Homo sapiens: one gene and its partners. The protein of the gene in region 2 interacts with the protein of the main gene of each other region in a pairwise test. Each region holds a gene or a part of one and is shown on either strand. Other genes may lie near its edges. The genes, in order: H4C3, TLE1, HEXB and H4C12.

What was found.
Region 1: the proteins of TLE1 (region 2) and H4C3 interact in binary tests that used the Homo sapiens proteins (3 or more experiments, as listed by UniProt).
Region 3: the proteins of TLE1 (region 2) and HEXB interact in binary tests that used the Homo sapiens proteins (3 or more experiments, as listed by UniProt).
Region 4: the proteins of TLE1 (region 2) and H4C12 interact in binary tests that used the Homo sapiens proteins (3 or more experiments, as listed by UniProt).

What each region holds. Positions count from the first base shown.
Region 1 is NC_000006.12:26,099,444-26,104,868, reverse strand, and holds H4C3 (histone H4), read right to left. Parts: upstream 937-5,425; 5' UTR 922-936; coding exon 610-921; 3' UTR 532-609; downstream 1-531. UniProt on the Homo sapiens protein: Core component of nucleosome. Nucleosomes wrap and compact DNA into chromatin, limiting DNA accessibility to the cellular machineries which require DNA as a template.
Region 2 is NC_000009.12:81,588,548-81,595,588, reverse strand, and holds part of TLE1 (transducin-like enhancer protein 1), read left to right. Parts: intron 1-2,314; coding exon 2,315-2,564; intron 2,565-4,536; coding exon 4,537-4,784; intron 4,785-5,478; exon of another isoform or gene 5,479-6,081; intron 6,082-7,041. UniProt on the Homo sapiens protein: Transcriptional corepressor that binds to a number of transcription factors. Inhibits NF-kappa-B-regulated gene expression. Inhibits the transcriptional activation mediated by FOXA2, and by CTNNB1 and TCF family members in Wnt signaling.
Region 3 is NC_000005.10:74,716,199-74,721,795, reverse strand, and holds the end of HEXB (beta-hexosaminidase subunit beta isoform 1 preproprotein), read right to left. Parts: intron 5,210-5,597; coding exon 5,123-5,209; intron 3,506-5,122; coding exon 3,433-3,505; intron 3,000-3,432; coding exon 2,825-2,999; intron 1,369-2,824; coding exon 1,278-1,368; intron 1,154-1,277; coding exon 1,049-1,153; intron 679-1,048; coding exon 621-678; 3' UTR 508-620; downstream 1-507. Other genes in the region: GFM2 (ribosome-releasing factor 2, mitochondrial), read left to right, coding at 13-141. UniProt on the Homo sapiens protein: Hydrolyzes the non-reducing end N-acetyl-D-hexosamine and/or sulfated N-acetyl-D-hexosamine of glycoconjugates, such as the oligosaccharide moieties from proteins and neutral glycolipids, or from certain mucopolysaccharides.
Region 4 is NC_000006.12:27,830,665-27,836,161, forward strand, and holds H4C12 (histone H4), read right to left. Parts: upstream 897-5,497; 5' UTR 864-896; coding exon 552-863; 3' UTR 510-551; downstream 1-509. UniProt on the Homo sapiens protein: Core component of nucleosome. Nucleosomes wrap and compact DNA into chromatin, limiting DNA accessibility to the cellular machineries which require DNA as a template.

The DNA of each region.
Region 1 (5,425 bases), on a different chromosome or scaffold from region 2:
TCAACACGCGCCTCCAGCCCTTCGGTTAAGTCCAAAGTACCATTCTTAGAATGCTCTAAAATACATAATTTTTTTTTTTTTTTTTTTTTTTTTTTTTGAGGAGTCTCTCTCTGTCTCCCAGGCTGGAGGGGAGTGGCGCGATCTCGGCTCACTGCAATCTCTGCTTCCGGGCTAGCTGGGCCTACAGGTGCAGACCACCACGCCCGGCTAAGTTTTGTATTTTTTTTGGTAGAGGGGGTTTCACCATTTTGGCCAGGCTGGTCTCGGATTCTTGATCTCAAGTGATACACTAGCTTTGGCCTCCCAAAGTGCTGGGATTACAGTCGTGAGCCACTGCGCCCAGCAAAATGCTTTTTGTGGAGCCAATCACTTTATTAGCGCTTACCTCTCTATGCCTACTTTATGCTTTGAAATTTTGTCACAGTGTGGCCGGTCATGGCAAACACAATTCATTCTTATGCAGGATGTCACGGTTATTTCTGTCATCCAAACTCATTCTCGCAACGCATTTCAGCTCTTTAAACGACTTTGTGAGCGGCCCTGAAAAGGGCCTTTGGGTTTTTTTGTTTTTGTTTTTTGAAGTTCTCAGGAGACCGCGTATTCTTAGATTCAGCCGCCGAAGCCATACAGAGTGCGCCCCTGACGTTTTAGGGCATATACTACATCCATGGCTGTGACAGTTTTGCGCTTGGCGTGCTCCGTATAGGTGACGGCGTCTCGAATAACGTTCTCTAAGAAAACCTTAAGCACACCTCGAGTCTCCTCATAGATAAGACCGGAAATGCGCTTGACGCCACCGCGCCGAGCCAAACGGCGAATAGCCGGTTTTGTAATGCCCTGGATGTTATCCCGGAGCACCTTACGATGGCGCTTAGCACCACCCTTCCCCAAGCCTTTTCCGCCTTTGCCGCGACCAGACATGATTCCTATCGCAGTGGAAGGTATGAACTGAAACAGTTCCTTAAATACAAACTTGGCGGACCTGATTGAAAACAACATGAGTTGGCGCGGTTTTTTTTTTTTTTCAAATTTGGTCACCAAGTGGGTGGAGCAAGAAAAACTGTTTCATTATGGTTCATTGTTTTGATTGGCCAGTGACAGCTTGCTCTTTGTGGGAGTGGAAGGGTGTTTGCAAGTTGAATGCGCTGTATTCCTGTCAGCTTAATGACGCTAAGCATAGCCCCATTCCACATTTCTTTTTATTTCCACTTGCTAACTAATAAATTACGGAATAGTTTATTGGGGAACATACAAATAATGTTTAAAGGAGGTCAGATTTATAGGTCAAGGGATTTACCCTCCCAATCATTTTAATATTTTTATTTAAACCAGGCATTTTGATGGCCTTCTCTGTGCTGGACAAGGTATAAGTTTGGCTATGAAGTTTCACTCCTAAAGACCCTATGTTTTGGGAAGGCAAAAAGGTAGCCAAATAATTGCAAATTAAAACCTCATAAGTGCAAACTTCTTCCTCGTCACTTTCCCTATCTCGATTCAAATATTTGTTGAATGACTCATTTTTCTGCAAAAGTCTGAGAGAGACAGGGAATATAAACTTAAGTCTGGATAATATGTTTTCCCGGGACGCTCTTCCTGGTCTGCTGTGCCTGTTTGCTGTGCCTGAAATTCCAAACACTCTTCCCTTCCCTCCGTTTTTAATCCCCTTTCAACTTGCTACAGCTTTAGAGAAAAGAACATTCGTTTTGTACAGTTGGGGATTAATTGAAGTGTAGGGCTAATACTTGATTAAGGTCATTACAAAATCTACAGGGTCTTCCTCTGGGAGGTTTTTGTGATAAGATTATTGGTGTTAAAATAAGGCTAATCCCCTTGAAAAATAAATAGAATAGCAGAATTGGGTCTGAATGTGGTTTGAAGAAAGGGACTTCTCAATTCAAAATTTTATTCTTAGCTTCCTGCGGGAGCTTTCCAGAATGCCCATAAGATCCACTTTTGTTTAAAAAACAAAAACAACCCCACCCACCACTCTCTGGTTAATAAATGAATTTCTATTGGGAATATTTAGAATGGGGCTGTGGCCTGTGAGAGACATTATATAGTAACCTCAGACTTGCTCACATGAAGAGAAGAAATCCAGGAATGGAGAAAAAAGACCCAGGAAAGGCCAGAATGCTCTACATGTCATATTGTTTGTATCACTTCTGAAATAATTGATTACATTCTTCTGCCCCAAATTGAGTTCTTAGGTTCTTCCACTCACTGTCCACATGCCACAACACAGACCTTATAACTAGAGACTTAGCTAGGAAGAAATGTCAAACATTACAGAGAAAAAATGCAGAGTCTGAGATCATAAGTAAAACTCTGAAATCTCAACATGCCTTTTAATTCATGAAAATAAAAAATATAGCAGCATATGCAATATGACAATTCTCTGAAAACATACATCATGTGAACTACCCTGGAACACATCTCGCCAAGTGCCATCTTCATTTTAACCAGAGGTCTAGGATGCCTTTCCTTTATTTTGCCTATTATATCATTTATAAAACCCCATTTTTATTTTGATATTTTATTTACTTTCTATTTCCTGCTCCTAATATCTCCTTTCTAAACTTTTCTCAATGACAGTGACTCAAAAACAATGAATGTCAGAACAAATATTTAAAGGATCTGTACATGTAGATATATATATTTAAAATGGATTCTTCCACTCTGCGAAGAATTCAGGCATACTCAATCTTATGGTTAGGGAGAGATTAGGCTCACTCGCCTAATCTGTATGGCTTCTCGTTCGCTTTCCATTTCACCTTCCTCTCACCCATCAGATCAAACTCATTCATTGAACAAGAGACCTAAGCCCTTCAGATTAAAACTCTGCAAACAAGTTGTGGTTGAGAGGATACATGAAGCATTCAAACAAATAAATCTATGATATTAATCAGAGGTTAATCTATGATATTAATCAGAGGTTAATGCAGTGGCTCACGGCTGTAATCCCAGCACTTCAGGAGGCTGAGTTGGGAGAATCGCTTGAGCTCAGGAGTTCAAGACCATTTTGGGCAACATAGCAAGTCTTCATCTCTACTTAAAAAAAAATAACCAGAGGTGTTATGAAAATATAAATTGTCCAGAACTACCCTCCACAAACTAACTCTCTCAGAATATTCGATATGAGGAATGAAATATGGTGTGTGTGTGTGTGTGTGTGTGTGTATGTGTGTGTGTGTGTGTGTGTATGCACCTATATATGGCACCTATATATTCAACAAACAATTCTGATAATTGGCCAGGGTTGAGAATGACTAGCAGCCCAGCATACACTATCAGTTTTAAGTATATAATTGCGCTTTAGTAAAATGTAAAGAAATCCCAGAGTAGAAATACTTTTAAGCTATATTACAGGTGAGAAAATGCATAAGTATAGTCTCACCCAACTTAGACTATGGGGGCTTTATAATGTCACAACAGTTGTTTCCAGGCATTTGGGGACATCACCACTGGTCTTGGGCAAGAAACTCCTCTAGCCAATGGCTGATTTATCTCACTCCCATCTAAGGCTTCACTGCATTTCTCTTTTTCAGCAACCTAACTTATTTAAAAATATCCATTTTCTGATTCATTTTTTTCTGAATTAAACTGTCAGTACCATTGGCACACCTTTGGTTCCGTAGCATACCTGTGTCTCTGCTGTGTTTTTTTTTTACCTCCACTCCTTACTTTTCTAGAAAAAAATCTCTGCTTTTTCTTTTCAGTTTAAATTATTTCACAAAAAGTTTTCTTGACTTGCACTTCCTAGGCTTGCTGTCCTTGTGTGGGCACGCTCCCATAAACACTATTAATACACTTCGATTTGTTAAAAATAAAGATATCTGGACAGAAAATTTCTTTTCTTTTTTTAAGATTTTAAAATTTTTAATGTTTATTTTTTTCCTAGACTGGAGTACAGTGGCACCATGATGGCTCATGGTAGCCTACACTTCCCCGGGCTCAAGTGATCCTCCCACCTCAGCCTCCCAAGTAGCTGGGACTACAGGTGTGCACAACCACACCTGACTAATTTTGTTTATTTGTTTGTTTTGTTTTTTGAGATGGAGTTTCGCTCTTGTTGCCCAGGCTGGAGTGCAATGGCGGGATCTCGGCTCACCGCAACCTCTACCTCCCAGGTTCAAGCAATTCTCCTGCCTCAGCCTCCCGAGTAGCTGGGATTACAGGCATGCATCACCACGCCCAGCTAATTTTGTATTTTTAGTAGAGACGGGGTTTCTCCATGTTGAGGCTGGTCTGGAACTCCTGACCTCAGGTGATCTGCCCGCCTCGGCCTCCCAAAGTGCTGGGATTACAGGCGTGAGCCACCACGCTCGGCCACTAATTTTGTATATTTTGTAGAGATGGGCTTTCCCTGTGTTGTCCAGGCTGGTCTTGAATTCCTGGGCTTAAGTGATCTGCCCACCTTGTCCTCCCAAAATGCTAGGATTACTGGCGTGAGCCACCAGGTCTGGCTGGAAAGATAATTTCTAACATTATCCTCTCTTAAACATTTGTTTCAAAAATTTTACAAACATGAGAGTAATTAAATTTGATTTTCAAAATTCCCTTGAATACTTTCTTAATAGCACACAGAAAGCACAAAGTATTTTACATTTGTTTTAATGATGAAATTGTGAACCCAAACTTACACAAAGAAAAACCCGTAACATTATACCCATACTTAAAACAGATGCCCTCATATACATAGTAAAACTCTTGGGGGCAGTAGTGAAGTTGGTTATTTACTGTTTTATGAAAGTGCCATTCAGCCGGGTGCAGTGGCTCATGACTGTAATCCCAGCACTTTGGGAGGTCGAGGCAGGCTGATCACGAGGTCAGGAGTTCAAGACCAGCCTGACCAAAATGATGAAACCCTGTCTCTACTAAAAATACAAACATTAGCTGGGCGTGGTGGTGTGTGCCTGTAGTCCCAGCTACTCAGGAGGCTGGGGCAGGAGAATCGCTTGAACCTGGGAGGCGGAGATTGCAGTGAGCCGAGATCGCACCACCGCACTCCAGCCTGGGAGACAGGGCGAGCTCCGTCTCGAAAAAAAAAAACAAAAAAGTGCCGTCATAGTGACTCAGTTTTAAGGAATAAATCAAGGATATTTAACTCAATAGACTACAGTTAGCTAACGTGACTTGCACTGAAAGTTATACGAATATTGGTACTTATTCCCCTGCCCCTGAAGTATGAATTAAAGACTCCAAAATTCTTTTTAGAATCTTCAGAGTAAAAGCTAGAATTTGATTTTTTTAAATAATAAAAAAATACTTTGTATCTAAATCTGGTGTATAAAATAACTTGGTGGATGATGCTTCAAGGCTATCCATCCCCAAATTTCTCCCTGAATGATAAAGAGAATAAATGAATATGTCAATTCAAAAGTTAGAAATTTGGCCGGGCACGGTGGCTCACTCCTGATAATCCTTT
Region 2 (7,041 bases):
CCTTGGCCTCCCAGAGTGCTGGGATTACAGGCGTGAGCCACCGCGCCCAGCCTCAATTGTTTAATTTTATGGAAATTTACTTGTCATTTCTTCAGTATCACCTGGCAATTTTTTTGTTGTTTTTGGACCCAGAGTATGGAGCCTGATTCTGAGTCATAGAACTTGGCTACTGGACTTTGTTCGTTGAGCATTCTTCAAAGCCTAGAATTCTTGTAGGACATGAATAGACTTAAACTCCCATAGTTCTGTGGCAGTCTTCAAGGGCAACAAAATGCTATTTGATTATGACTCCAAGTATCCCATAATAAGTGGCATAGGTTCCTGTTCAACTAACTATAATGTGCATGTTGAAATATCATGTGGACTCGATATATTGCTAAGGACACCAAATAATCCTGTTGGATAAAAAATGAGATTGAGTGGTTTGGTGATGTGAGGGCTTTGAGCTATATTGTTTTTATATGTGTATTTATTCCCCAGGACAGTCTCCATGGTTCCCATTATACGTGCTTATTCATTCAAATTAAGAGTAACATTAAGGATTTGGGCCAAAAAGCTATTTACTATTAGTTACTGGAACCAATTTGCCAGCAGATAACAGATTGAGATTATGTCCTGTGATTGAGTGGAGGGGAAGTTTAAAAGTCTTCATGTGTCTGATATTTTGCTTTTATGGAGGGAAGATAATAGCATGCATTTTATTTTCAAGCAAATGTATGTGGGTTTTAAGTGCAGGGTGCTAGAGACCTGGCATAATCGGTTTTCAGTTTTGTGCTTGCTAAGTTACTTTACAAAATTTGAGTTTGTATTAAAATGAAAATTTAAGCTCTGTGTTAGTACTCATGGTGTTTACATTATATTTAAAGCTGCCAATGACAAGCTCCAGAAAGGGCCCAGACTTTCTCGAGGGTAATGGGAAGGAGGAAGCAGTGCATACTTCACTTATTGTTTATGGTTTGAACTTCTAGCTCTCTTAGTGATTTCAAGTTAAGAAAGTGGAAGTAGTGGTCTTCAAAGTAGAATGTGCATAATTTTTTTTTTTTTTAAGACGTAGTCTTGCTCTTGTCGCCTAGGCTGGAGTGCAGTGGCGCGATCTCATTGTTCTCATTGTCCAACTCCCATTTATGAGTGAGAACATGCAGGGTTTGGTTTTCTGTTCCTGTGTTAGTTTGCTGGGAATGATGGTTTCCAGTTTCATCCATGTCCCTGCAAGGGACATGAACTCATCCTTTTTTTTATGGCTGCATAGTATTCCATGGTGTATATGTGCCACATTTTCTTTATCCATTCTGTCATTGATGGGCATTTGGGTTGGTTCCAAGTCTTTGCTATCCAGCAATTGATTTCTGTCTTTGAAATCAACTTGTGGCCCAGAGGGGCCGTAGGAGCACCAGTCATCTTGCTCTTAGCTCAGGCAGTGGGAAGGAAGAAGAGAAGAGGGCAAGTATGCTCTCTCCCTATTTATTTTTTTAGAGCAGTTATAGGTTCTTGGCAAAATAGAGTGGAAAGTTACAGAGAGTTCCCATATCCCCCATCCCTCTCCCCTCTTTCAAGTTCAGAGCTTCCTCAAAATGCCATCCAACAGCTTCTTCTTACACCTCATTGGTCAGAACATAGGCAGGCTGGGCTAAAGGAGACCGGGGAAGAGTAGTTTTTTAGCTGCACACTTTGCTGTTTTATATAATGGCGTTCCTGACCAAGGTAGGCAAGGAAGATTGTTGAGTAGGAAACCTAAAATCTCTGTTTACAGCCATATAAGATAATCTCTTATTTTCTCTTCCTTAAGCAAGAGAAAGTTGAAGTCCATACCATAAACTGGTATTTTTAGAAAGCTGTTTTTTTGGAGGTTGTTTTTGCTGTTGAAATATATCTACTCTGTTTAATTATTATTAGTTCTTAAGGGCTTCATCTTTAGCAGGGAAAACAATCATTTAAAATTATACTAAGAAATCATACAATTACACAAGATACATGGAAGGAGGTATTTTATGTTCATTTGGAAGTACATTAAGTGTTTTATAATGAGATTTGAGGGAATGCTTTACAGAATGGGTAAGAACAATTTAAAACCCTTAAAAAATTTTACATACAGTTCAATATATATGTCATTTGGTACACGCTAGATTTCTGCTATTAATTATTTTAAATTTGCACCAGCAGTAAATGCTTCAATTTGTATTGATTTCAAAGGAAACTATACAAGAGAATCTTTCCTTTTTTTCATCTTTTTCATAGTCGTAGCACATTGCCGAGATAGGGATTGCTTCCTCTGTAAATGTGTTTTCTGTCTTCTCTCCAATCGTTTTTCCAAAAGTGCATACTCCTTCCACGTTACTGCAGACGGTCAGATGCAGCCTGTCCCTTTTCCCCCCGACGCCCTCATCGGACCCGGAATCCCCCGGCATGCTCGCCAGATCAACACCCTCAACCACGGGGAGGTGGTGTGCGCTGTGACCATCAGCAACCCCACGAGACACGTGTACACAGGCGGGAAGGGCTGCGTCAAGGTCTGGGACATCAGCCACCCTGGCAATAAGAGCCCTGTCTCCCAGCTCGACTGTCTGGTGAGTGAACAGGAACTGGTGCACAAGGGCAATTTCTCCCTGGAGATTCAATAAGGAAATAGCTGTGTGGGCCTGGGTTTTATTCCCATTATGAGGAAATAGAAGCCCCTTCTGTTTCCTGTGTTGGTTATTTAACCCCCTCGGCTCCCCATTTAAATGCGAAGGTTTCATTTGTTGCTGTTGTACTGGCTAAATCCCAGAGTTGATGGATTTCTTTTTAAAAAATATTTTACAGTGGTTTACAGAGGCTCTCCTCATGTATGGATGTGTATTACAAAAGAGAGTTTCCCATTTAATGGACAAAAGCACAACTGGGCCTGGACTCTGATCCCTGCCATCCACTCGTTTTTTAATTGACCTACAGCCTTTAGATAAATATAGAATAGTAAATATTTGATAACATGGCATAAAAACCATTCTGAACAGGGTCTGTGTTTTTAAGGGAGACCTGAGAGAGCTGGTTAGGTTTTATGGCCTTAACTTCAGGAAAGGGTTAAAGGCTGTCACTGCAAAGACCCGGGGCAGCCATCAACGAAAGAGAGCAGTGAGAATGCTTTCCCAGAGTACCTAAGCCACGTCCGCTCAGAGCCTGAGAATACCATTTAGCATTTTTCAGGGACATAAAACATGTTGGGACATGTTCGGATCTCTTTTTTCTTTTTTCTTTGAGACGGAGTCTTGCTCTGTCGCCCAGGCTGGAGTGCAGTGGCCGGATCTCGGCTCACTGCAGGCTCCGCCTCCGGGGTTTACGCCGTTCTCCTGCCTCAGCCTCCCAAGTAGCTGGGACTACGGGCGCCCACCACCACGCCCGGCTAATTTTTTGTATTTTTAGTAGAGACGGGGTTTCACCATGTTAGCCAGAATGGTCTCGATCTCCTGACCTTGTGATCCGCCCGCCTTGGCCTTCCAAAGTGCTGGGATTATAGGCGTGAGCCACCGCGCCCGGCCATGTTCCGATTTCTAAACCATAACCCCAGGATTTACAGAGCACATACCACTGGCCTTAAGCAGACTCCGAGCTGCCCTGCCCTGCCCTGCCCTGGTGTGGTGTCTGCCTGCACTCTGCTGTTGCAGATGGTGCCACGTACCCACTGCCTGCCTGGAAAATTGTAAGGATTCCAGAGAAGGTGTTTCCAAAAAGCAGAGTGGCGGTGTTTTGGAAACACAGACTTTTTTTAGAGTAGTTATTAGTGCATTTTTTAAAAAAACCAAATAACTTCAAAATGTCTTCATTCATGAAATTCTTATTTAAATATGGCCCAATATTCTATAGCAGTAGGAGTATCCTTTGTTGAAGTCATGTGCTTAAAGTTTCTTTAATCTTTGAAAGATAATCCATCGTTAAAAGCATGTAAGCAAACTTTAGCCATATCTGCATCTTTCAGGAGTTGATCATATGAGGGCCCCCCACCCACAGCCCCTTCATATGTGTCGGTTTTGATGGAAAGATGCCTGCTTTTATCAGGTTCTTTGGCCTTTGCATTGAGGGGCTTAAGTGTAACAGCAGCCACATGACAACTTGAGAAAGCAGCTCTGGTAAATTCTTAGCAAGAATCCTTCTGACTAATGAGGTAATGTGCTCAGCATAACGAAGACCGAAACATAGAGGATGGGCCTGCAGTTTCCAAGTGGTAAATAATGCAGGGTGATGAGGTAGATTTATAAACTAGCTTGGAAAAGTGGTTTCTTCTCAGGGAACTATGTGTACACCTGTACCTCATACCTAGATAGTTTCAGCTCTGTGATGCAGGACACCAGAAGCAGTTACCTAAGCTCCTGTGAATTTGTTTTGTTTACTATTTTGAAGGAGACAGTTGTACTTGGACCCCAATCTTGACTAGAGAACTCTTGCTCTGTTAGAGTGTCCATGAAACACCACTCTTAACTCAAAAAACCAAGACAGCCATTAGAGAACATGGTGCTATGATTGCTCGGTAATTCATTATAGCAATGAATTATGTTTATTCTACAGAACAGAGACAATTATATCCGTTCCTGTAAATTGCTACCCGATGGCTGCACTCTCATAGTGGGAGGGGAAGCCAGTACTTTGTCCATTTGGGACCTGGCGGCTCCAACCCCGCGCATCAAGGCGGAGCTGACGTCCTCGGCCCCCGCCTGCTACGCCCTGGCCATCAGCCCCGATTCCAAGGTCTGCTTCTCATGCTGCAGCGACGGCAACATCGCTGTGTGGGATCTGCACAACCAGACACTAGTGAGGTGAGCAAAGATGGTCGTCTAAGGAGGGGTTCGCTTCTTTAGCAGCTGGGCCTATCACCTCTGCTTCTCTCTGGCTGCCTGCAGCCCACACAATAAGAGCCTCTTGAATGCCAGGCATGGGGCTAGGTGATGAGGGAACAAAGACAACTGTGTTGCTGCCTTTGGGGGGCTTACAGTCTTATTACTATGCCTGGTGTCACCCGAGACTTTCTATCTCCTTAATGTGCCAATTCTTCAGCCCACATACAGACTCCAAACTTGTTCTAAAAATATTTCTGGCTTTTGCCAAGGGGTGGCCTAATGTGGATTACACGGCAGCACAAAAGGCCCTTGATACTAGATGTTTTGGGCTTTGGCTAGAACTTGGTGCAGACAAGAGCCAACTGATAAAAGATAACAGAAAATCAACAAAGGGACATGAGAAGAGGAGATTCTGTGAATTTTGCCTACAAAATGATTTTAAAGTATCTCAATAATGAAATAGACCTGCCCAGGGGTGGTTCCACCCAGGAGCCCGCAGGGCTCTGCCTGGCCTTCTGGCATCAGCCCTGTCACCTTAGCAGCAGCTGCAGTTCTGGTACCCATGTGTCTCTCCTCAGCTCCCCCGCCAAATGCTCCCTTCAGAAGTCAGTGCTCACACCAGAGCTGTTCTCAAAAAGTCTTTTTAAAGTAAGCATGAATGAAACATGAAAGGTAAAATGAGTACATGTTTTACTCTTGTTTCATCTTTGCTGGGAAGCCGTCCCTGCGGATGGTGCAGTTTGGGGTCTGTGGCTTGTTTGGTAAGTCCCCTCTCATGCTGCACAGAGAAGGGACGGGCTCCAGAAGTCATCATGACAGCTCACTCTCTTCAAACCTCCGCTGTAGAAATCCATGAAGTGTCATTGAGCCGGGCCCGGTCCCTGCGTGTGGGTGACAGTGCGGCAGTTACTTTCCTCTTCTGTTTGCTGGGTAGTGTAGGTGAGCAAAATGGAATGATGGAGCCAGGGCCGAACGCCCTCTCCACCTTTTATCCTAGCAAAAGTTACTTGTTTTTTTCTTTTTTTAAAACTCCATAAGTAGCACTTTCAAAATATCAATTCTAAGCACTTTTCAAATATTCCTCCACTTAGTTCTCATAACGTCTGTCCTGCTATTTGCCCCATTTTATAGAGGAAGTGCCTGAGGCTCAGAGAGGGTAAGTTACTGGCTTCAGGTCACACAGTCAGATGTGGTGGAGCCAAGTTGAGGCCCAGGCATTCTGCTCTCGTCTGTACTCTGAACCCTTGCTCCGTGCCGGCTCCTGGGGAGTAAATACCTGTTGGATAGAATGGGGTAGCGTCTTACAAATCTTTCTCTGGACCACTCACAGGTGGCTAGTGGCTGCTGCATGTAATAGGGCCATGTAAAGCCTATTGAATGTCTTTGTATCCACTGTAACCCAGCACGTTCTGAACAGTCATAGGATGTGCCTGAGAGTAATGCTGGAGTATAGTATATGGACGGAGAGAGGGCAGAGGGATGGGGGAGCAGCTGCCAGGTACTGTATGTCAGCAGAGGAAGGTGTTTTCAGTCAAGGAGGAACAGCGTTTCATGAGTTAGAAAGGTCAAAAGAAGTCAGAGGGTCACTGGATTTCCAGAGCTGTTTGAAGGGAAGGAAAGCAACACTTTCACCAAGTGAAGCAGGGACTGCTCCAGGCCTGGGTGTTCTGTGGGGATGTCTGGGAAGCAAGCGGAAACATTGGAGGTCCAGCTGCACGGCCGCAGGAGAGAGGACTCAACCTGGATCCTAAAGTGCAGAAGTTGGGGATGGCTTGCAGAGAGAAGATTTTAAAAGTGATGGTTCACGTCTTGGCTTAGAATTTAGGGCAGTAGTGGTGCTTTTTCCTTCCCTTGCACTCTTTAAAATCCAAGCTCAGGTTAAAAGTTTGGAGCTCTACAGGAATGATAAGGTGTGGGGATCCTGGAGGAAGAAGCAGCATGGTAACTTTCTTCTCAGTGTTGAAATTCCCACGCAGTTCTTTACTGGATCCCGCCTGCTTCTGAGGGTGGGTCTAGACTTTGCTCGCCTTTTCTGGCTGCCTCCCCCACCACCTTCCTCTCAGCATGCAGAACTGAGTCCACCAGTCACCGTCCCTGCTGGGGCTTACACTGACCTCCCCTCAGCAGCTCTGCTAGTTGCCTTGCACAGCATCTGTGCTCAGCAGATCCCTGTTGGCTGATCGTTTCTGATGGCGATTTTTGAATGAAGCACAAGGTTCTTTAAAGAACAACCTTG
Region 3 (5,597 bases), on a different chromosome or scaffold from region 2:
TATTTTGATTAGGGTTATTCAACTGTGCTTCGAACGCTAACATCAGGCTCAGCTACTTTTGCCTTAGAACTATCTACTTATCAAGCCATGAATCCTCAAGATCAAAATACACTGCTCAACCGGAGAAGTGGTTTGACCTAAATGTTTTAGTTTTTGGAGAGAAATTCAGGAGCACCTAGCTACTTCATTTTCAGTAAGAACAATTTTTATTGCTTTATTTATTGGACGAATAAAGTACTGTTTCAGTACATTCAGAGAACTAGATAAAAGATATAACTTAAGCTTTGATAGTGGCACTGGAGCCACCCGTTTTAATTTATATAATGAGAAATGTGCTTTGATGTTTAAAGCCACTGTACCTGAATCATGCTGTTCATCTATGAAGTTATTACTATAAGTAGCCTTCAGAAGAGTGGTATCACAAAGTTGTGTTTCTTTTGTGTCCTTAAGCTTGTCTCACAAGAAAGATGCCAGGCCTCTAAATGTAATAAGATAGAGGGTCAAAGGTTCAATCAATAAAAATATTTTATTCAAAAAACAGTCTAATATCTTATTTTACATGATTTCAAAATAAAGTTGATTGTAGTACAGATTGCTGTGGCCTTTTTCCCCTCCATTTTTTACATGTTCTCATGGTTACAATATCCAGCATAAAGAGGTTGTGCAGCTATTCCACGTCTGTAGATAACATGAATAAAGATATTTTAGATTGATTTAGATTGATATCATTCATAAAGATATTTTAGATTGATATTCATGTCATCTTAGAAACTTAAATTAGAATCACTAAATCACAGCATTACTGAAAATAAGGGAAGAAAATTAAAGCAACTCAAGATGGAGTTCTAAGTTACACCAACATTTTTTGTATCTATAAAACAGTCACAAGTCTGAATATATCTTTACAGGTATTATTACTTACAAAAAAATAATTCCTGGTTTCTTCTAATTACTATTTGTTAGGTAACATACATTTCTATTTATAGCAAAAGAAACTAACACTGAATAAGAAGGTTAAAAATCACACTGGACTTAATAGATTTCTTACTCGACCATCCTGCAGCGGTGCCTTGTCAGTCTGTCATAGGCGTCATCCATATCTCTGACATCTTTGGAACTCCAGAGTCTCTCACCAACAGCACTTGCCCGAGGCCTAAAATTTAAATCACACATCCCCCCGCAAGCAGTTTAAATTTATGTTTAGCACTTTTGTGTTTAGACAGAGAAGGAAAGCTAAGGCACCTTAATTCTTAAATGTTATCAGGTAAATCCCATACCATAATCTTGGAGTGAGGTTAGTTGCATCCACATATTCTCCCCATAGACAAGCTTCTCCACCAATGAAAAGTTGTTTCTGTTTCTGAGTACCTAAATTAAAATCATTGAATTAAGTTCAGAAGTTCAAAGCTTATACACAGAGGCAATATTTCATCAAGATTTGTTTCCTCCATCTTTATCCTAGGGCAACATTTCTTGCCCGTGGTTAGCAGGACCTTGGGAGATGCTAATGGTTGTGGCACAAAAAAGATGGCCCCTCCTCTTCCCCCACCCCCCAAAAAAATGGTTGCAAACTTTATCCCCAGCCCTGACCCACGGTTCACAGCACGTGTTAGCACCATAGATTAATGTAGTGGGCCAGTATTAAACAGTTTTATTTTGGTTTTATGCAAACTTACCTGGACACCAGAAACCATTTTTTAAATCCCTGGTTGCCTATTTAGTAGTGTGCCAGGGAATAGAAGTTGGAATACTAGTTTTTTAGTGGACTGTGACCACCATGCCTACCTTTAATTTCTACCTCTTGGCATTTAAAACAGAAATTGAATACTTAATGTGTGTGTTTTTTTTTTTTTTTGAGATGGAGTCTTGCTTGGTCACCCAGGCTGGAGTGCAGTGGCGCGATCTTGGCTCACTGCAACCTCCACCTCCTGGGTTCAAGCAATTCTCTGCCTCAGCCTCCCGAATAGCTGGGATTACAGGTACCCATCACCACGTCCGGCTAATTTTTGTATTTTTAGTAGAGACAGAATTTCACCATCTTAGGCAGGCTGGTCTTGAACTCCTGACCTCATGATCCACCTGCCTCGGCCTCCCAAAGTGCTGGGATTACAGGCGTCAGCCACCGTGCCCAGCCACTTAATGCTTTTTAAAAATCAGTAATTATCGCTTTTTGGTCCTCATAAAATGCATTGTATATAAAATTATCAATTCTTAATAGACCTATGGTTTTGAAACTTTTTTAAACAGCAAAATCCTTTTTCAGTGATTTTTCACTAAAGGCTAATGTACAAAATTGGACAAACTAGAATGTTTTTTATGAAGGGGATCTGAGAGCCTGAAGCTCCACCCTTCAGATGTTCCCTCCTGTCCCATCCACCAAGGATTCTACTCCTCAGAATCCTAAGACAACACAGCCTGAAATCCACTGAACTAAAACTATAGCTTTGCTTAGGTGTCTTACATTGGAGAAGCAGTTCAGAAGAGGGCATGTAAGGTTAATGCAATCAAATACCTTTAGAATGTAGAGAGTGAGGAGCCATCACTGAAAATGGAGATAAAATCTAAGGGGATCTATAATACTTTTGAAGTTCTTGAATTTAGGCAACTGTATGGTTTCTTGAGAGTTTAAAATGATACTGAACTTAAAAAAACACATAAAATCAAGGATCAAACATAAAAGATAGTTGGTAGGTAATATCTAGGTAAAGACTTCTGGGGTGGGAGGTTAGGGAAGAAAACTCATAAAACAAAGGTAACAATGGTTGCTTCACTTACCATCAGCTTCACAGTAACCCACAACACTTGGACCAACTGCTTCACTTACCGCCAAAATCAAGAGGTTCCACTTTATAGTATTTCCTCCAATCTTGTCCATAGCTAATCAAATCTAAGTACCAAGGAGCAGAAAGGATTACAGGGAAGCCAGATGCTGTGACTCTACTGAGTTCCTCAGGATATGCGCTGTCTTTCCATACTTCAACTATTGTGCCCGGCGCAAGCTATTAACGTTACAAATTGCAATACATATTATTAGGCCTAGAACAGTAGATGAAATTGAAAGTTTAAGGCATTATTACTAGGAACATAATTTTCTAAGATCCTTAAAAAAAATCTGCATTTTCTTTTTCCTCTTTTCTTCAGAGTTAGTGCCATGTGATACTCATTTTAGGGACTTAAAAGTTTCATCAACCTTAGGTTTGAATATTTAACTTTTGCTTATATATGGATACCACATAGGTTCAGTTAACTAAAGCTGAGACTTGCATTTTAGTCTTATTTCTACCAAACCTAGCTTGGAACTATGAGGTCCAAAGTGGTCACTAACTACACTAGAAAGGTAATACTAGTAGTTAGACTTGCAAATTCCCAGTTGCCCCAAGAAAAATAATTAAGTCTCTTATATTGATCAGATGCAGTCTTCACAATGCTCACCTTTGCTTTATCATCAAAAACCTCCTGCCAGACAATGGATCCCTTGTTTATGGTTGCAATAATATCCAAAACCCTAGTATTACAAAAAAATTATAGTTATTTTAGATCATAAGCTTAACAATATATTTAAAACATGTACATTTTCTACCAAGGATTTCTTGCATTTTGAGAGGTGCCTTTTAGTATAGTTCAGCTTTATAGCAGAAGCAGCTCAAGTTGGGAAGTGTCACAAGTAGTTCCTCCTTTTTAGCACTTGATACAGAACCTAACATAGTATGGGGGTTTAATAATCATTTGCTGAATGAATGAGTTAAACATGCCCCTAAGATAGGAAGAAGTGGCCTCAAATTGAGTTGGTAGGCAACTCAGGAAATTGTACAAACAGCAATCTCTTACAATTTTATGGCTGTCTTAAAATGGTAGGGACCACGATCTAGCCTGTCATATCACATAAATTACATGTAACAGTTACTGACAATCCACAAATATTTACAGATATTTACATAATGCCAGGTGCTCTGCAGATAAATAACACTTAAATGCATCACACAAAAAGCTGAACAGGCAAAGGCTGGAATCTGGGCTTGCCAAATAAATGGTACAGCATAAGGGTTGGCAACTACAGCTTGCAGGCTGTTTTTGTATGTCTCATGGGCTAAGAATGGTTTTTATATTTGTAAAGCATTTTTTTTTAAGTTTTAAAATTTGAGGTTTTTTTTAAGTTAAAAAAAAATTGTATGTGGTCCATGGGCAATTGTATGTGGCCCATGAAGCCTAAAATCTTTACTCTCTGACCCTTTACAGAAAAAGTTTGCCAATCCCTCTAGAGCAGCACGGTCTAGTAGAACTTCCTGGGATGGAAATGTGTATATATATATATATATATGCATTTTTCAGTATGGCAGTCACTAGCCTCAGCTGGCTACTGAACACTTGACATGTGGCTAATGCAACTGAGTAGCTGAATTTTTAACTTTCATTAATTTTAATTAATTTACATATGGACAGACACCTGTGGCTATGGCTACTGTATTGGGTAGCACAGGTATATAGTAAAATATATGTTCCTGGAATTGACAAAATGGAATGAATTCCAGGGGCTGGATGGTAGTGAAGACTTCACAGGGTAGCCAGGGCTTCAAGCTGAGTTTTATATTTATTGATGGATTGATTGATTGATTGATTGAGACAGTCTCACTCTGTTGCCCAGGCTGGAGTGCAGTGGTGCGATCTTAGCTCACTGTAACCTCCATCTCCCAGGAGATTCTCCCTCAGCCGCCCGAGTAGCTGGGACTACAGGCACCTGCCACCATGCCTGGCTAATTTTTTCATTTTTAGTAGAGATGGGATTTCACCATGTTGGCCAGGCTGGTCTCGAACTCCTGGCCTCCGGTGATCCACCTGCCTCGGCCTCCCAAAGTGCCGGGATTACAGGTGTGAGCCACCATGCCCAGCCCAATCTGAGTTTTTAGAACAGATGACTGCCTTCCTATATTTCAACAGCTATTGGAAAATACTTGGAGTCACCATGTTACTGATTTAAAGCAAGCAGTGGGTATTGCCTCCTTTAGTGATTTTTCACATCTACACTTAGGCAAAGGATGTAGAGAAAATGTAAAAAATAAAGCACATTACTAAATAAACTTTTACAAAAAGCATTAATACAGAAATAGGCTTTCAAACAACTTACTTTTGAATGTAGAAAGATTCTAGTTTCTTAAAATCTGTGCCAAAGCCTTTTTGCCTCATGAAATCTTGAATTTTTGGATTTGATTCCCTGAAGCAAAAAGTGATTAAAATTTCATTAGAAGTTTGATATGCTCAGTTTATTATTTAGAGCAGTATACATGCCTAACATCAGTTGTGCAGACTTAAAACTATTAAAGTTTGTAGGTAGTAAAAAGAAGCCTAAAAACTTAATTACAAGTTATCTTAATTATCCATTGCAAACAATTTTTTCAAGAAGCTGATTTCCTTTAAAAATGGCTTTCTTTACCTTACCACCTTTCTCCTCCATCTAAAGCTATTTGCAGAGAGAATTTTTATTTGAAAAATCTTTCCTATTTAATCATTGATTGCCCTCTTTCACTAAAGGTGTTCTCATTTCACAGTAGTCTTTTTTTGAATCTCCATTTTCTTCTGCATCTTGTTTTTCCTCAAGCTTT
Region 4 (5,497 bases), on a different chromosome or scaffold from region 2:
TTGGATTCACAGCGCCAGAAACCTATAACTGCTTGACTTTCCTCCCCACTACACTGCGAAAATTGCCCCTTAAATGTAACTAACCCTAAAACCTCAACAGTATCGTGGCCAGGCGTGGTGGCTCACTACTGTAATACCAACATTAGGCATAGGCGAGGGGATTGAGGCCAGGATATCGAAACTAGCCTGGGAAACACACGGAGACCCGGTCTTTGGAAAAATAATTAGCCTTGCGTGGTGGTGGGCGCGAGGTTCCGGCTAATCGGGAGGCTACAGTGAGCCATGATGACACTGCACTACAGTCTGCGCGACGGCCCATGTCAGTAAGCTCTGGAGCACCTGAAACAAGTTGTGTTGGGTATTTTATTTACTGGAGAGCGATTAGTGACTGATGCCTACTTACAGCGACTAGAGACGCATGCTCCGATAGCAGCACAAACTCAGCAGGCGCGAACAAATGGTAAAGAGAAACTGGGCAAACAAGCATCACGGCTCCTCAGCTGAGAAAGTGGGGGCCCTAAAAAGGGCCTTTTGTTGATAGAAAGGGACGCTCAACCACCGAAACCGTAGAGGGTGCGGCCCTGGCGCTTGAGCGCGTAGACCACATCCATGGCGGTGACCGTCTTGCGCTTGGCGTGCTCTGTATAGGTCACGGCGTCCCGGATCACGTTCTCCAGGAACACCTTCAGCACCCCGCGAGTCTCCTCGTAGATGAGGCCGGAGATGCGCTTCACGCCGCCGCGGCGAGCAAGGCGCCGGATGGCCGGCTTGGTGATGCCCTGGATATTGTCGCGCAGTACTTTACGGTGGCGCTTAGCGCCGCCTTTGCCAAGACCCTTCCCGCCTTTGCCGCGGCCAGACATGACGAGCAAGAGGAGTCTCACCCAACGCTTTGTGAGGACTCTGGCCTGAGGCAGCGCCTTTATACGACAGTTGGCGGACCGAACTGAGAACCTGAAAGAAGTCGGCGGGAAGTCCCGCCCCGGTGGGGGAGGGGAAATCTAAAGGGCCAAACCGAAATAGGGGGAAAAAAAAAGCGAGCTTCTTGTTTCCGTGTTCTGAATTTTGTAACGTGCATAGTATTTTGTTACCACGTTATGAGGCTTTAAAAAATTGCTTTTGAACGCAGAAGATATACATCAATACTGTGGGAAATACAAGAAAGGACAAGAAATTAAGAAACTACAATGTTATCCCATCACACAGGCTAGTTAATCATGTATTTTGCAGAGCAGTTGCACATATTTTTCCAAGAAAATGTATACAGTGTTGTATATGGAGTTTTGTAACCTCCTTATATTGATTATAATTTAACCAATTTCTATTAAAGAGATAAAAGTGATGTTTTGGTGTCTATGTTTCTTAGGAATTATCAATAGTTATAATCAGTTCCCCAGCAATTTTTTAATCGGCTGTATTTTAAAAATAATGTTTTCCACATTCAACATAAATGTACTTTTTCTCTATACTTGGGACCAATATTGAAATTTATGATTTTATTACACCAAAATTTAAATTTTATTACATTAATATTTAAAATTGTATTAGAGGTCTCATGATTTGGTACTACGGGTCTCCGCATTATTTCCTTTCCAAATTTCCTAATCTGTTTCACCAAGGTTTCTGGACAACTTTAGAGACCTTTTGTGAAGTTTGAATAAAATCTCTTCGAGATTTTGATAATTGCATTAGCTTTAGGACTTAATTGGAATAGAATTAAAATCCTTAAAACAAGCTCTTATAACTAGAAAATTGGTGTTTGTAGGTTTTGTGTGTGGGGTTTTTTTTTTTTTTTGGAAGGAGTCTCGCTCTGTCGTCAGGCCGGAGGGCAGTGGTGCAATCTCGGCTCACTGCAACCTCCACCTCCCGGGTTCAAGCGATTCTCATGCCTCAACCTCCGGATTAGCGCGGACTACAGGCATGCGCCACCACGCCCAGCTAATTTTTTGTATTTTTAGTAAAGAACAAGTTTCACCATGTTGGACAGGATGCTCTTGATCTCTTGACATCGTGATCCGCCCGCCTCAGCCTCCCAAAGTGCTGGGATTACAGGCGTGAGCCGCTTCGCTTGGACGCTTGTAGGTTTTTAAAAAGACACTTTTATATGACCCAACTAAAGATTTGTTATCAACCATTATGGAGCAACTTTGATTCCGTATATTTGATTTTCTTTCTTATTAATAAATACAGGGTTATACTCTGAATTTTTTTTTTTTTTTTTTTTTTTGTGGAGACGGAGTCTCGCCCTTTCGCTCAGGCTGGAGTGCAATGGCCCAATCTTGGCTCACTGCAACCTCCACCTCCCGGGTTCAAGCGATTCTCCCACCTCAGCCTCCCCTGAGTAGCTGGGATTACAGGCACTCACCACCACGCCCGGCTAATTTTTTTGTATCTTTAGTAGAGACGGGGTTTCACCATGTTGGCCAGGCTAGTCTCCAACTCCCGACCTCGTGATCCATATGCCTCGGCCTCCCAATGTGCTGGGATTACAGGCTTGAGCCACTGCGCTCGGCCACTCTGAAATTATTTTAACATCAATGAAAATTATAAAACTCCTATAACTATTCTAATATAATCTCTTAGTATTCAATTCTTTGTTTAGAAAGTAGTTAAGAGTTGAAACTCTGGAAATAGAAAACTTTGGTTTTAGATTAAATGTTTACCTTTCAGACTCGAGCTGACTTGTTACCGATCAGACACGAGGTGACTTGTTTATTCTTTTTAAATCTTTGCTCATCTACAAAGTTAGAATAGGATAGTGACGGTACTGTTGGGGTGCAGAATGATTCCCCAAAATGTGGTTCTTGGGCATGCTGAGCGCTTTTGAACATTGAAAGGCCTCAGAAATAAGCTTCAGAATCAAAGCCCCTCTAACTTCGTCTTCTTTCCCATACATGCGAAGGGACTCTGACATTTCCTAATCGGACCAAGAAAATTTCTTACCAGAAGTAACAATTGCCTTCTATCCCCTCCCTGTTATTTCATTATTGCAGAAAAGAATACTGAATATGGATTTTTCAAGATAATGTCTGCCTCTCGGTCTCATTTAAATTACCAAGACATACTAGGTGCTGTGGCTCCTCCCACTAATCCCAGCACTGTGGGAGGTCGAGGCAGGTGGATCCCTTGAGCTCAGGAGTTCGAGACCAGCCTGGCCAACATGGCGAATCCCTGTCTCTACAAAATATACAAAAAATTAGCCAGGTGGTGTCACATGCCTGTAATCCCAGCTACTTGGGAGGCTGAGGCAGGAGAATCACTTGAACCTGGGAGGCGGAGGTTGCAGTGAGCCGAGATTGCACCATTGCACTCCAACCTGGGCAACAAGAGTGAAACTCTGTCTGAAAAAAAAAAAAATTAGCCAGTTGTAGTGGTGCATGCCTGTGGTCGCAGCTACTAGGGAGCCTGAGGTAGGAGGATCACTTGAATCCCAGAGGTGGAGGTTGCAGTGAGTGGAGACTGTGCCACTGCACTCCAGCCTGGGTGACAGCCTGGGAGACGGATTAAGACCCCATCTCAAAATAAATAAATAAATTATGAAGACAATCATTTACAAGCTAATTTCTTTCTGTGGCCCATTTATTTTCCATAACAAGCCTTTATTGCCCCTCAAAGGAATTGTCTACCTTTCCCATCTCCTCCTTCCCCTATGAAAAAAGTTACATAAGCTTCTGTACTCCTTTAGGGACTGGGGTAATCACTTTGTAATTCTCCCTCGTGCACATTATTAAATTTCTGTGCCATTTCTCCCATTATTCTGTCTTTTGTCAGTTGATTTTCTATGAAACTTCCCTTAGCCCCTACAGTATTTACCTCTTTGAGGTACTGTAAGAATTAATGGAGGCCAGTCTCAGTAGCCTGCCTGTAGTCCCAGCTACTCTGGAGGCTGAGGTGGGGGGATTGCATGTGTTCAGGAGTGGGAGGATTGTGCAAGCTCAGGAGTCAGAGATCAGCCTGGGCAACATCACAAGACCTTCATCTAAAAAATAAAAAAAATTAAAAAAATAAAACAATGGAGATAATGTATGTAAAATATTAAGCAGAAAGCCAACCTCTATTTAATATACGTAATTTTTTTCTTTACAACTAATTTACAAATATTTTGTTTATATTATACTTTAAATATGTTAATACATCAATTTATCTAATTATGTATAACACATTAAGTAGTTAATTTAAATAACAAATATTTATTTTTAGTACATATTGTCAATGTCGGGGCTCAGAAACCAATACCCCAAACTATGGCATGGTGACAAGCTGAACTGCAGAAGCCTCAAAGTCTCTTTGACCTTCTCCCACTCCCCAACCTTTGTCTTCCTGTTATCTGGACTCACCAAAAATGAGTCCCTGTAAGACGAATGTAATCACACCCGAACAGCTCATTTCACAAGATAAGGTACAAGTTTAATTTCTTTTCCCTGATCCATTCATTCTTCCTAGTAATCCCCTCAAATGAATTCCTCTTCTCCCTCCCTCAAACTGTTTTTCAAGGATGGTATATAAACTTCTGAACCACGTTCTGGGGTGGGCAATCACTGATTCTCCCCATGCACATTGTAAATTTGTCTGCCTTTTTTTCTATTAATCTACCTCATGTCTGATTTTTCAACAAACCTTCAGAGGGCATCAAATCAGTAAGGACATTCATTTAATTCAATATTTCACAGATGATATAATACCATGAAGTGATAAGGCACTATAAATGTTCCTAATTGCTCCTTGCCCCTTGGATCTCTCTGATCTTTAGGTTGCCTCCTCTAGTTTACTTACTGTGAAGCTACTCATTTAACAGCTCCTCCATTTTCCTTTACATGTGTATGTGGAATTATAAACAATGATATATCACACTTGTATATTTTATTTTGCTTAATACATAAGTTTGCATGTCAATGTTTTGATTATGAGTACATTGATTTGAGTTTGCATAAATAACACCCAAAATTATAATAATTATAAAGCAAAAGTTACTTTACAAGCTGTTTAGCTTAAAGAATTTTACTTCTGGAACTCACGAACTCTGAAAAATATTACTTAGCTAGCTTTCATGATTAAATGGTGGTTCTTGGGAGAAACAGAATCAATGGAATAATTTTATTATCAACTTCAATGATCATAACAGCATATTTTATTTAAAAACTTATTTTAATTTCAAAAATCTTACAGGCCTTCTATGGAGCTGTATCATTTACTCTATATTGAGAAACAATTATTGAAAATTTATACACATAAATAACACAGATGACATTTTAAAAGGGAACAAATGAATTAATTCATTGAAATCAGGATGGAGTCCTCAACATCAAATAATAAATTTTTTTAAACAATGTGATATTTATGATTTTTGTGATTGCTGTTTTATTCCAAGAAATACTAGTTGTATGTGATTGCAATCAAGACTTAAATCTAGGAAATAAAAATGTGTGAAGAGACTCAAAAATTAATGTATTTCAATGGACTGGAGATCCTGTAGAAATTCATTTTCATTAACATGTCT